Linked DNA regions of Homo sapiens: region 1 is linked to region 2. Evidence: fine-mapped expression QTL. A gene starts in region 2. The other region holds a variant in brackets. All regions are shown on one strand. Distances are between the middles of the regions. Region 1 overlaps SRP68 (signal recognition particle 68). Region 2 holds the start of FOXJ1 (forkhead box J1).

Region 1 (2,500 bases), 73 kb before region 2:
TAAGAAACCACAAACAAAACTCACTCAGCCAAGCTGAGAGTATTTTGAATAATAAATTCTGCAATAAGGCAAGGTCAAGGGTCAATGGTTTGGGATATTATACTTATGGTTACTAGAATTATCACATATCAGCTTCCAAACATTTTTTTCTTTTCTTTGAGACAGAGTCTGGCTCTGTCACCCAGGCTGGAGTGCAGTGGTGTGATCTTGGCTCACTGCAGCCAGGCTCAGTCAATCCTCCCACCTCAGCCTCCTGGGTAGATGTGACCAACAGAGGTGTACCACCACACATGGCTAATTTTTGTACTTTTTGTAGAGACAGGGTTTCACTATGTCACCCAGGCTGGTCTCGAAATCCTTGGACTCCAGCAATCCGCCCACCCCAGCCTTCCAAAGTGCTGGGATTACAGGCATGAGCCACCATACCCGGCCCTAAACATTTATTGAACAACTAAAACATGGAGGGCAATATGATTGGTATTATAGGAAACACAAAGAGATGGAGGACACAGTGCCCATGTTCAAGGAACCCACATTAAAATTGAGTAGAATCATGCAGAGAAAATGGCAACCAAGAAAACAAGGCAAATGTCAAGTTGAAAGGACATGGGTAATCATTCTCTTGTTAGCACCTTCAGCTGCAGTGGACTGATGGCGGGGCCTAGAAAGAATGAGGGGCTGGGTGCAGTGGCTCACACCTGTAATCCCAGCACTTTGGGAGGCCGAGGTGGGCGGATCACTTGATGTCAAGAGTTCGAGACCAGCCTGCCCAACATGCAGAAACCCCGTCTCTACTAAAAATACAAAATTAGCCAGTTGTGGTGGCACATGCCTGTAATCCCAGCCTACTCGGGAGGATGAGGCAGGACATTCGCTTAAACTCAGGAGGTGGGGGTTGCGTTGAGCCAAGATTGCGCCATTGCACTTCAGCCTGGGCAACAACAGTAAAACTCCGTCTCGAAAAAAAAAAAAATTAGCCAGGCATGGCGGGCGGGCGCCTATAATTCTAGCTACTCGGGAGGCTGAGGCAGAGAACTGCTTAAACCCGGGAGGTGGAGGTTGCAGTGAGCCGAGAACACGCCATTGCACTCCAGCCTAGGCAACAGAGCAAGACTGTGTCTGAAAAAAAAAAAAAA[A/G]AAGAAGAAGAAGAAGAATGAGGAGGATTCTAATAAATGTAAAGAAAGCAGGGAAAGGGGCATCCTGAGGAAGACTAAGATGACACCAAACATATGGAGAAAGAACTGCAGGCAGGTCTGAAGAAAAGTGAGGAAGCCAATTAGGTTATCGCCAAGAAGCACTACAAATGTCACCTCTATGCCAAGCCTCCTCCTCTATGCTCATGTAGCTCTTTATTCTTCCTTCTATTACAGTGTGTGACATTATAATTATGTTCTCACATAGTTGTCCACTAATATAAATCCCTTTAGTGCAGGGAGAATTATTTTTTTGAGACAGAGTCTCACTATGTTGCTGTTGCCCAGGCTGGGCTCGAACTCCGGGGCTTAAGCAATTCTCGGGCCTCATCCTCCCAAGTAACTGGCACTATGGCATGTGCCACCATTCCAGCTAGGATTTCATTTTTAAATTTTCCACAATGCCTTACCACAGTGTCTAATATGCAGATGTTCAATACATACATTTTGACTAAATTAGTTTAAAATATATATATAAATAAATAAATATATATATATATAAAATTGCACCAACCTTTAAGTCAAAGTAATACAGCACATAATTTACAATACAAAATGATATTTCAATACTACTTCAGGGGCCGGGCGTGGTGGTTCACGCCTGTAATCCTAGCACTTTGGGAGGCTGAGGCAGGCAGATCACTTGAGGTCAGGAGTTCGAGACCAGCCTGGGCAACATGGTGAAACCCCATCTCTACTAAAAATACAAAAATTAGCCAGGCATGGTGGTGCATGCCTGTAGTCCCAGGTACTCGGGAGGCTGAGGCAGGAGAACTGCTTGAACCCGGAAGGCGGAGGTTGCAGTACACCGAGATCGTGCCACTGCATTCCAGACTGGGTGACAGACAAAGACTCTGTCTCAAAAAAATAAGTAAATAAATAAAATGAAATAAAAATAAATAAATAGGCCAGGCACATTGGCTCACACCCGTAATCCCAGTACTTTGGGAGGCTGAGGCAGGTGGATCACCTGAGGTCAGGAGTTCAAGACCAGCCTGGCCAACATGGTGAAATCTTGTCTCTACTAAAAATTAGCCGGGCATGGTGGCATGTGCCTTCAGTCCCAGCCACTCAGGAGGCTGAGGCAGAAGAATCACTTGAACCCGGGAGGCGGAGGTTGCAGTGAGCCGAGATCGCGCCACTATACTCCAGCCTGGGCAACAGAGTGAGACTCCGTATCAAAAATAAATAAAATAAATACTACTTCAGCATCTCAATCAAAGCTACCAGGGTATAGATTATTTAAAAGAAAAAAAAAAAAAGAAATAGGCCAGACACGGTGGCTCACGCCTGTAATTCCAACACTT
Region 2 (3,014 bases):
GCCAGGTGGGATCTGCGTGGCGGAAGTAGCAGAAGTTGTCCGTGATCCACTTGTAGATGGCCGACAGGGTGATCTTGGTGGCCTTGCTGGCCTGCATGGCCATGCAGATGAGCGTGGCATACGAGTAGGGAGGCTTCACGTGCGGATTGGTGGCGTAGTCCACGTCGTCGGGGGGTGGGGCCTGCAGCCCCGGGGGCGCGCTCCGCGACGTGCACGACGACGTGGGCTTGCCCGGCGTGTGTGGCTGCCCCAGGCAGGCGGGGTCGGCCGCCAGGGGGGACCCGGGCGCCGCTGAACCTGGCACCTGGTGGTAGCCGTGGGGGTCGGTGCCCCCCGGGGGCAGGGCGGGGGCCTTGGCGTTGAGAATGGAGAATTCCTGCAGCCACTGCAGGCTGGTCAGGCTGTCATCCAGGGCGTCGGGCTCCTCCAGGCCGCCCTCCGGCCCGGCCTCCTCCGCCGGCCCGGCTCCCGAGAGGCGCAGCCAGCTCTCCGCCATGTCTGCGGGGACTCTCCGAGGGGGCGGTCAGCATCCACGGGCTGAGCCGGGGGTGGCCCGCCGCGCTCTCTGGCCCGCTGAGTCCCGCAGCTCCCGTTACACGGCCTCCCGGACGCGCGCTTCCATCTCGCGACCCCGGGGGCGCCTCCTCCGAATAAGTATGTGGTGCCTGCGAGGACCACGGTGGGAGCTGAGCACTACCCCACCCCCGAGGGGACAGTGTGTGTACGGGGACGCCCTCTCTAACATCATCCCCGCAGCTGGGGAGGATCTTTTAGTGCCGAGGTATGGGAAACAGAAGCAAGGCCCTGGGGTCCCACCCCCATCAGATCTGCCTCCCTCTTCCTTTCCTCTTCGAGGTTTTATTAGCCAAATGAAGAGGGTAGGGGCATCCGAGGCTATCCTTTTCTCCCGAAGAGCAGGAAATCAGGACCCCCTTCCTCCTCGCAACAAATGGAAGTGGGGCGAGAAGTTTGGGAGGGCGGTACGACGGGGCGGGGGCGGTGGAGGTCCTCTGATCCTTGAAAAGGAATATTATGATAGGGGATCATTGGGAAGGAAGGGGACGGAACAGTAACGGGGGGCAGGAGGCGAGTTTCCCCCAGACTTCTCCGATGTCAGTCCCTGGGCCCACCACTTCCGTTAAGGACGAATGAGAGAGCGGGTTGGTACCGTTGCCCACCCTTCCCCCTGGCCTGCAGCCCTCCCCATCCCTTACCTGGCTCAGAGCGCAGCCCGGGCCAGAGGAAGGTTCTGGAAGAAGTTGCTCCCACCCCCTGCGGCTCTCTGCCCCCAGCTCGGGGGCCCTGCCAGCGCCTCTTGCCGCCCCCCCGCCCGACGGCGCTTCTCTGAGCTACCGCGGCCCCGGGACCGGCATTAAGTAGCCGCTCCAAAGGCTTCTCCTGCTGCCATGGCGACGCTCCGCCCCCATAAACAGCTTCCGCCTCTGCCATTGGCCAGCACGTCTCCAAGGAGACCGCGGGCACTTGCCACTCTCCCTGGCGGCAACTCTCTTCGAACTCCCTCCTTCTGCCGCCCTCTCCCGCGCCACCCAACCCCCTACCCGCCGCTAAGTCCCGGCTCGGCTCATTCCCGCCCGAGGGCCCCGCGCTGGGGTCGGAGAAGCGCGCGGCCTGCGGCACCGGGAACCGCTATGGATCCGTTCGTTCTGGGGAACCAAGACTCTCGCCCCCACCCCCTTCCTGTCCCGTACGCTTTGAGGCGTCGACTGCTCCTGGGACGGAGCCTGGGGTTGGGGGGCTAAGGCTGGGAGCGGGCTCAGGCTCGGGAACCGTATCCTTGAGGTTTTCTTTCCTCTCCGCTACGAGTGGCACTTTCTCATGTTTCTGCAGCCTTTCCCTCTCCCCCGACTCTTAGGGTCTTTCTCTGGTGTCCCAGGCAGGTCTGACTTTCCGATGCCACCTGCCGCTTACATCCACAGAGGCGGCAGACACACCAAGGGGGTAGGGTAATCCAGTGTGTCCCAGTAAGCAGCTCCTTCCCCACCCGTATCCTCGAGGTTCCAGGAAGCTGACATTCCAGAGGCTTCTGCAGAAGCGCACTCACTCCTCTGGAGACAGCTGATGAAGCAGAGCCCGTGGGTAAAACTCTGAAGTCATGGACTTGTCAAATTCTCCTAGCGGGGTCATTTGCCCAATTAATTTCACCAACCTTTAAGTCACAGGGATTAAGAGTAGAGGGACTCTGGGGACTGTGTCCCTTCCTCCTCCCTTCCCCTGGCCTCCCTCCTGTCACCAGCTTTCCTGCTCTTTAATTATTGAGGAGCTGCAGGGTTGGACGTTCTCCGGTTTAAGGCGGCTGCAGAGGCAGTGGTGGGGGCTGGGTTGATTACCCCGCCTCTGCCCAGGAGCTGGAGAGCCGGGGTCGGGGAGGCTGGTGCCCAGACCATGAAGAAGGCCCGGCTATGGCGCATCACTCCCCCGCCAACATGCCTTTCCCTAGCCCTTGCCTCTCCCACTCCTCCAACTCCAGATCCTCTTGAGTAAAAGTATTAAAGAGTGCTGGCGAAAGTCAGACAGAAACTTTCACAGATAAGCTCACTTTGCAGTTAGCTCTCCTTCCCTTGTAAACAGTTTTATTCATTTTTAAGAATCATGCAGCAATCCATAAATATTGCATTCTTGATGTCCCCACTGTAGTGTGACCACAAGTGTACTCCAGGGAGAGGGGTACACAGATGGCACAAGCAGTATACACATGCACACACCAGGTGTGCAGACCAAAGCAAAGTGAGCGACCAGCGTGCTAAACTCCAGGTGGGCAGGACCCCAACTCCCAGGTGAGGTGGGCAGGACCCTAACTCCCAGGCCAGCCGGCTTAGAGTGTGGTGGTCTGTGCCCAGGAGATGCCTCAGCGGGGGTAGAAACTCTGGTGGGATGGAGCTGGGCAGAAGGAAAAAAGGGCTCTGTGAGGAAGCCGGGATCACACCACCTGAAGGCAATAGGGAGAGCACAGGCCTAGTGCAGCAGGAAGGAGCCCTGGGTCTCCATAGTTAGGC

Evidence for each region. PIP is the estimated chance that this variant, and not a neighbour inherited with it, causes the effect.
Region 1: its variant is the best candidate, but not a certain one, in a credible set for the expression of FOXJ1 in whole blood (TOPMed, PIP 0.86).

What each region holds. Positions count from the first base shown.
Region 1 is chr17:76,067,334-76,069,833 of GRCh38, forward strand. All of the region lies in intron 2 of SRP68 (signal recognition particle 68), which reads right to left. Among named protein-coding and RNA genes, the nearest start is that of SRP68, 3.9 kb to the right of the region's middle. The variant A/G (reference allele first, on the strand shown) is at 1,137.
Region 2 is chr17:76,139,900-76,142,913 of GRCh38, forward strand. FOXJ1 (forkhead box J1) reads right to left here and starts at 1,346. Exons shown (of 3, transcript NM_001454.4): 1 at 1,215-1,346; 2 at 1-665. The coding sequence starts at 496. RNF157 (ring finger protein 157) reads right to left here. Exons shown (of 19, transcript NM_052916.3): 19 at 2,575-3,014. RNF157-AS1 (RNF157 antisense RNA 1) reads left to right here and starts at 657. Exons shown (of 8, transcript NR_040017.1): 1 at 657-781. RefSeq lists silencers at 184-373, 434-503, 1,182-1,341.